2 linked regions of the Homo sapiens genome follow. The protein of the gene in region 2 interacts with the protein of the main gene of each other region in a biochemical or structural test. Each region holds a gene or a part of one and is shown on either strand. Other genes may lie near its edges.

The links.
Region 1: the proteins of RELB (region 2) and EHMT2 form a complex in vitro, tested with the Homo sapiens proteins (one study listed by BioGRID).

The regions. Positions count from the first base shown.
Region 1 is NC_000006.12:31,880,551-31,884,364, forward strand, and holds part of EHMT2 (histone-lysine N-methyltransferase EHMT2), read right to left. Parts: intron 3,655-3,814; exon of another isoform or gene 3,401-3,654; coding exon 3,256-3,400; exon of another isoform or gene 2,890-3,255; coding exon 2,812-2,889; exon of another isoform or gene 2,460-2,811; coding exon 2,344-2,459; exon of another isoform or gene 2,236-2,343; coding exon 2,149-2,235; exon of another isoform or gene 2,123-2,148; intron 1,011-2,122; exon of another isoform or gene 846-1,010; intron 572-845; exon of another isoform or gene 543-571; coding exon 464-542; intron 299-463; coding exon 123-298; exon of another isoform or gene 1-122. UniProt on the Homo sapiens protein: Histone methyltransferase that specifically mono- and dimethylates 'Lys-9' of histone H3 (H3K9me1 and H3K9me2, respectively) in euchromatin.
Region 2 is NC_000019.10:45,032,188-45,035,615, reverse strand, and holds part of RELB (transcription factor RelB), read right to left. Parts: intron 3,083-3,428; coding exon 2,867-3,082; intron 1,373-2,866; coding exon 1,304-1,372; intron 1,166-1,303; coding exon 1,088-1,165; intron 1-1,087.

The sequences.
Region 1 (3,814 bases), on a different chromosome or scaffold from region 2:
GAAATCTGAGAAGCTCTGCACTACTCCATGCCTGGACACCAGGTACATGCCAGCCTTCAGGTCCCAGGTTTGCTGCATCTCCCACCCCCTGGCAGAGCCCCTAGAGACCCCTAGAGTCTCACCCTAGCTCCTCCCCAGTCCGGATGTCTCGGGAACTGAAGAAGGCGATGCGTGGAAATCGCAGGTCTTGGTGCAGCATGAAGACCCGGACGGGAATGATGTTGGGGTCACACAGGTGGTTGATGAAGCGGCTGATGTTGCCATAGTAACGGGCATCTATGCAGTACACCTCTCCATCCTGGGGCAGGGGGATGGCACTCTTCACATCTCCCCCGACCCTGCTTGCCCTCCCCACCCACTGACTCCCCAGTCCCTCCTCCCCAGGTTTCCATTTGCTGACTTCCCAGAGGCTCCTGAAAGCCAGCCCTGGGGAGCAGCAGGGTAAGGAGGGTCTCCTGCTCACCTTGTTGTCTAAGTCGAAGAGGTAAGAATCATCCTCTCTCACATCAGCCTCAGCATCAGAGATCAGCTCCCCGACATACCTGTGGGACAGGAATCCATGGTTCTGAAGGTGAGTGTGGGCTATTAGGAGGTGGCTCCAGGCCCCATCTCTCTTCACAAGCCTGTGGAATCTGGAATGGGCAGGGCTGGCAGGTGTGGGGAAGGGAAGGCCTGGAGCAGCAGTGGTGGGCAAGTGAAAGGGCAGCATTCCAGCCTTGACAGAGGAAGCCTTCAGTCAGCACAGAGACAGACAACAAGCTCTGTGGTTAAGGGGATTAATGTGTAGGGGCAGTTGGCCTGGGTGGGGAAGTTCGGGTTTGGACACAGAGAGGTTTGTGTTCCAGGAGCCACCCGGCAGGAATGGGCGATATGGAACAGGAGAGGGGCCAGGACTGCAGGAAGAGCCAGAGGTACAGGAGTGGCAAGGAACTCAAGGCATGATTCGGGGCAAGAGCACCCACACATATCTGGACACCAGAGGGAGGAGAGGAGCCAGCTATCTAAGGAGGGTGAGCAGACATGGGAGATTCAGACACACGGAGAGGACGTGGGTGGGAAGTGACTGTCAAGAGACAGCTTCAGCAGAGTGGGAAGGGCAAAGGCCGATTTTGGCAGGGACAGGCAGTGAGTGGATGGTGGGGAAACTGAGGCCCAGCAGGAAGGGGCTGCTTGCCAGAGAAGTTGAGAGATGACATGATGGAAAGAAACTGGATGGTCTGTTGAACAGGCAAGTATGGTTAGAGGACTATCTTTTTTAAAGGCCAAAGAATGGTCAGGCACGGTGGCTCACGCCTGTAATCCCAGCACTTTGGGAGGCCGAGGTGGGCGGATCATCTGAGGTCAGGAGTTGGAGACCAGCCTGGCTAACATGGTGAAACTCCGTTTCTACTAAAAATACAAAAAATTAGCCGGGTGTGGTGGTGCGCACCTGTAATCCCAGCTACTTGGGAGGCTGAGGCAGGAGAATCGCTTGAACCTGGGAGGTGGAGACTGCAGTGAGCCAAGATTGTGCCATTGCACTCCAGCTTGGGCAACAAGAGTGAAACTCCGTCTCAAAAAATAAATTAAAAAAAAAAAAAAAAAAGAGCCAAAGGAGACTAAAGTAAGATTGAGGGTTGTGGGATGGCAGCCAAGAGAAAGGGGGAGATTACAGATGCTGGGCAGAGAAAGAACTGATGGAGAGGGACAGGCCCCTGAGGAGGTGGACAGATAGGTAGCTGTTATCACCTCCACTCTACAGACAAGAAAAATAAGGCTCAAAGAGGTTAAGTAACTTGGCCAAGAACATCCAGAAGCAGAGAGGGGCTCAAACCCAAGTCTGTTTGTCTCCCAAACTGGCACTTTCTCCAGCTAGGAAGGGCGAGGAGGGGGTGGAGGGGAAGGTAGAGGGTGGAGGTGGAGGGGAGGGAAGACAAGCTCTGTGGTCTGGGCAGAGTGGAGGCAGGTGCCATTCTCAGCTGGGGGGATGGGGGTCAGAGGCGGCTGGCTGCTCAGCTGCAGGAATAGGGGTCAGAGGAGGCTGGCTGGAGAGTGGCCAGATGGAGACATGTGACTCATCAGGGCAGATGGCTGAGAGGGAGGCCTGGCAGTCAGCAGTGGCCATGTATCCCCTTCCCACCAGGTGTTAAGGTGCTCCCGGTGACTTACTCGCAGATGAAGGTCCCCTGTGGGATGGTCTGCAGGGCGCGGACCCCCCAGCCCATCTTGGCTGTTCGGTAGAGCTGTAGCCGCACCCTGGGGGTAGGAGAGATGGCGCTGTTGGGTGGAGGCCCTGGAAAAGCCCCAGGGGCAGGGAGGAAAGGGTGAGGTGGGGAGAGGGTGGGCTGTGGAGCAGGGCCTCACTTGATGCCACTCTGTACGACCCGGTTCTTGCAGTTTCTCCAGCATGAGCACGCCTGGTTACACTCGAAAATCAGCGGAGGCTCAATCTTGTTAAATTCCTGGAGCAATCGCCCATCCTAGGGTGCGGAGGGGAGGATAGTGGTTTCTCTGTGGGGCCCACCTCAGCTGCCCACCCAGGAACCCCAAGACTCTACAGAGACAGGGAAGTTGGGGTTGGGGAGGTCACACAGGCTCTGAGATCCGAGAGCACGAAATGCAGGAGCATCATCCCTGGTTTGCATAGACCTGGGCACACGCCCATCGCTGTCCCAGCCACATCCCAGGATTCCCAGGCCTTGCCCAGTCCTCTCAGTCACTTCCCCCACAGGGTAGGAGGTGAGGGACATGGTCCCAGGGAGCTGGTTTATTGGAGGCTGGCTCCTCTGAAGGAGGGGCCGGGTGTCTGTGGCCAAGGCAAGGGGCACGCACCTTGTCATACCAGCACCGGATGCTGAGCTGGCCGCACAGGCAGTTGGAGCTAGAGCAGTCGTCCACACACGTGCAGTGCTGGGGCGAGGAGGCAGAGGTCAGCTCAACCCCATGATCGGTCTGGGCCCCTCTACTCTTGATGCCCCCTGACCCCCTAACCACTGTCCTTTCTTTGGGGTCCATGTGTTACAACAGTGGGTGGTGATGGTCCTAGGGTGACGGGTAATCAGTATGGTGGTGTCCCCAGGGCTACTGGGAGCTCATATGATACCTTGCTGTGACCTAGGAAAAGGATCCCTCCCCTGGTGGGGATGCGACCCCACACCAGGGCTCCCTTTCAGCCAACCCTTCCTTGGCCAGGTGCCTTTGCTGGTTTGAAGCTTGTCCAACTGTACTTGGCAGCTCTCGGTGTCCTTTTGGGGAGGCCCCGGGCCCCCTACTCACCTGCAGGTGGGTGATGTTGCGATCGATGTTCATGGTGGACGTCTCGCAGTTCTCTGAGATGTACTTGTAATCCTCAGGGCAGGGCTCCCCATCCACACCGTTGACACAGGGAATGGGCACGTTCTCATAGCCCCGAGCCACGTCCCTGCAGAAGACGGGAAGAAGGGGCTGGGAAGCTGGAAAAGGGGGTGAGGAGCTACTCCAGGTATAAGGAAGAGAGTTGGGGAGGTTCCTGGGGCTGGGGGCAGGGGAGTAAGGTTGCCAGGTAAGATGCAGGACAGCGAGTTAACATAGAATTTTAGATAAACAAGAAATAGCTTTTTAGTATGTCCCAAAAATTACACAGGACATTCTCACACTAAAAAAGTATGCATCTGTGCATCTGAAATTCCAGTTTAACTGGGTGTCTTCTATTTTTATTTGCTGTATCTGGCAACCCTAGTGGGGAGGGGGCCTGTGGGTGGTTCTGGGGATTCAGTGGTGCATGGGGAGGGGTTGGGGAATGTTGTGAGGATGCAATGGAGCCTGGGGAGGGTATGGGTGGGGAGGAGGTGGTCTT
Region 2 (3,428 bases):
CACCTCGTGATCTACCTGCCTTGGCCTCCCAAAGTGCTGGGATTACAGGCGTAAGCCACAGTGCCAGGCCTGTTTTGTTGTTGTTGTTGTTGTTGTTTTGAGAAGGGTCTCATTCTGTTGCTCAGGCTAAAGTGCAGTGGTGCAATCTTGGCTCACTGCAACCTTCACCTCCTGGGTTCAAGTGATTTGTCTGCCTCAGCCTCCAAGTAGCTGGGACTACAGGTGTGCACCACCACACTCGGCTAATTTTTGTATTTTTAGTAGAAACAGGGTTTTACCACGTTGGCCAGGCTGGTCTCAAACTCCTGGACTGAAGCAGTCCACCTGCCTCAGCCTCCCAAAGTGCTGAGATTACAGGCATGAGCCACTTTCAGTCCCTACAGACTATGTATGTGAGACAAGAAATAACGTTCTATCCTGTTGAAGCCCCTGTTATTTTGGGTTTTGCTGTAAATGCAGTTAAATGTGATCATAGGTGGGATGCAGTGGCTCATGCCTGTAATCCCAGCACTTTGGGAGGCTGAGGCAAGCAGATCACCTGAGGTCAGGAGTTCAGGACCAGCCTGGCCAATGTGGTAAAACACCGTCTCTACTAAAAAATACAAAAATTAGCCAGGTGTGGTGGTGTATGCCTTTAGTCCCAGCTACTTGGGAGCCTGAAGCAGGAGAATCGCTTGAACTCAGGAGGCAGAAGTTGCAGTGAGCTGAGATCATGCCACTGCACTGCAGTCTGGGCGACAGAGCGAGACTCCATCTCCAAAAAAAAAAAAAAAGAAAGAAGAAATAGATCAAATTTTAAAACACCACTGAGCTAAGTATGTACTGGGCCTTTTCAAAGGAGTCCCTGAGGCTCTGAGAGGTAGAACAACTTAATGAAGTTCACATAGCAAGGAAATGGCCCAGAAGAGATCAGAACTTCCATTCTGTCTCCAAAGCCCTCATTCTTTCTACTCTATGTTGCTGGCTAAGTGCTGAGTGACTCGCCTTGTGGCTGCTCTTGGAGGGCGTGAAGAGGCCAGAAAAGCAGGGCTGCCACTTACCCTCTGCCCACCCAGGGGACAGGGGCTTATGTGTAGCTGGGACCCACCTGAGCCGTGGTTGGGCAGGAAGTGGTCCAGGATGGCCGGCTTTTTCTTCCGCCGTTTGCTCTCGATGCCATGGGGGTCTGAGGGAAGGCAGAGATGAGGACCCCTGTTCCCCGACAGCCCTTCCTCCCCAGCCTGGGGTGGGACAGGGCAGTGGGGTCAGCTGTCCCCTCCCCAGAACCTGGGGATGGGGGTGGAAAGGGGCAGAGGGCACACACCAGAGCTGTTCAGCTCCCCAAGGACGTCGGGCATCCCCCGTTTCCGCTTCTTGTCCACGCCGTAGCTGTCTGTTAAGGAGATACCAGGGACACACAAGAAGTAATTCATCAATAATAATTAATTCCTTTATTTATTTATTTATTTATTTATTTTTAGAGACAGTCTTGCTCTGTTGACCAGGCTGGAGTGCAGTGGCACGGTCTTGGCTCACTGCAACCTCTGCCTGCCAGGTTCAAGTGATTCTCCTGCCTCAGCTTCCCAAGTAGGAGGGATTACAGGTGTGCGCCACCACGCCCAGCTAATTTTTGTATTTTTTTAGTAGAGATGGGATTTCACTATATGTTGGCCAGTCTGGTCTTGAACTCCTGACCTCAAGTGATCTGCCTGCCTTGGCCTCCCGAAGTGTTGGGATTACAGGTGTGAGCTGCTGTGCCAGGCCTATTTTTTTTTTTTTTAAAGATGGAGTCTTGGCTGGGCGTGGTGGCTCACTCCTGCAATCCCAGCACTTTGGGAGGCTGAAGTGGGCGGATCACCTGAGGTCAGGAGTCCGAGACCAGCCTGACCAACACGGCGAAACCCGGTCTCTACTAAAAATACTAAAATTAGCCGGGCATGGTGGCGGGTGCCTGTAGTGAGTCTTGCTCTGTTGCCCAGGCTGGAGTGCAATGGCACAATCTTGGCTCACTGCAACCTCTGCCTCCCGGGTTCAAGCAATTCTCCTGCCTCAGCCTCCCGAGTAGCTGGGACTATAGGCGCCCACCACCACGCCCGGCTAATTTTTGTATTTTTAGTAGAGACGGGGTTTCGCCATGTTGTTCAGGCTGGTCTCGAACTCCTAACCTCAGGTGATCCGCCTGCCTCAGCCTCCCACAGTGCTGTGATTACAGGCATGAGCCACTGCGCCCGGCCTACACACTGGCCTCTTTGTTGTTCCTGGAGCACCCCAGGCACAATCCGGCCTCAGGACCTTTGCACCTGCTGTTCCAGCTGTTTAAAGCACTCTTCCTCCACTCTCACTATTTCCCTAGAAAACTTCCCTGCTTAGTCATCCTCCTGTCCTCAGCTCAGCTGTCCCCTCCTCCAAGAAGCATTCCCTGACACCTACAGCTGGGTCAGGTACCCCCTCTGGGCAATGTGAGCCCTTGAGCACTTCATTCCAGTCCTGCCCACTCTGGTCATCACTCTGTAGGGACAGGCTGTCCCCTATCCTCAGGACTATAAGCCTCATGAGGACACAGCTAGGGGCCGTGCTGGTCACTGCTGTGTCTCTAGCAATACCGAGCACAGGCCCGGGCATGTGCAGGATGCTGAGGGGAGGAAAGATTAAATACTCTCCAAATGTCACAGGACAGCTACTATTATTTCCATTTTGCACAGAAGAATGAGGCTCAGAGAGGCCAAGGTCACACAACCAGTAAGCAGCAGAGCCAGGATCTGAACACTGTCTTTGTAGCTCTGAGCCTGCATTCTAGTTCTGCCTCTTTCCCATCCCCACTGGGGTCTCCCCAAGGCCAAAGACCTAGTCTCCGAGGTGGTGGGTCACCCTGGGTTGCTGTAGTTACCATGGTCGCGAGGCAGGTACGTGAAAGGCAATGGCTCGCTGCAGACCCCATCGGTGAGCCGCTGCAGGAAGACGTTGACTGTCACGGGCTCGACAATCTCCAGGTCCTCGTAGGGCGGCGTCTTGAACACAATGGCAATCTGGCGGTGCACGTCGGCCTGGGAGAAGTCAGCCCGACCTTCCCAGGAGGCCCTGCTGAACACCACTGATATGTCCTCTGGCAGGAAACGGGGGACATCAGCTAAGCCAGGACATCTGGACCACTGTGCTCCCAACTTGCCCAGCCTCCCCTAAAATCAAGACTAATATTCCCCCTTTTTAAAATTTTTTTTTTTTGAGAGTCTTGCTCTGTTGCCCAGGCTGGAGTGCAATGGCGCGATCTCAGCTCACTGCAACCTCTGCCTCCCGGGTTCAAGCAATTCTCCTGCCTCAGCCTCCGGAATAGCTGGGATTACAGGCATATGCCACCACGCCCGGCTAATTTTATTTTTGGTTTTTTTTTGTTTGTGTGTTTTTGAGATGGAGTCTCACTCTGCCTCCAGGCTGAAGTGCAGTGGCATGAT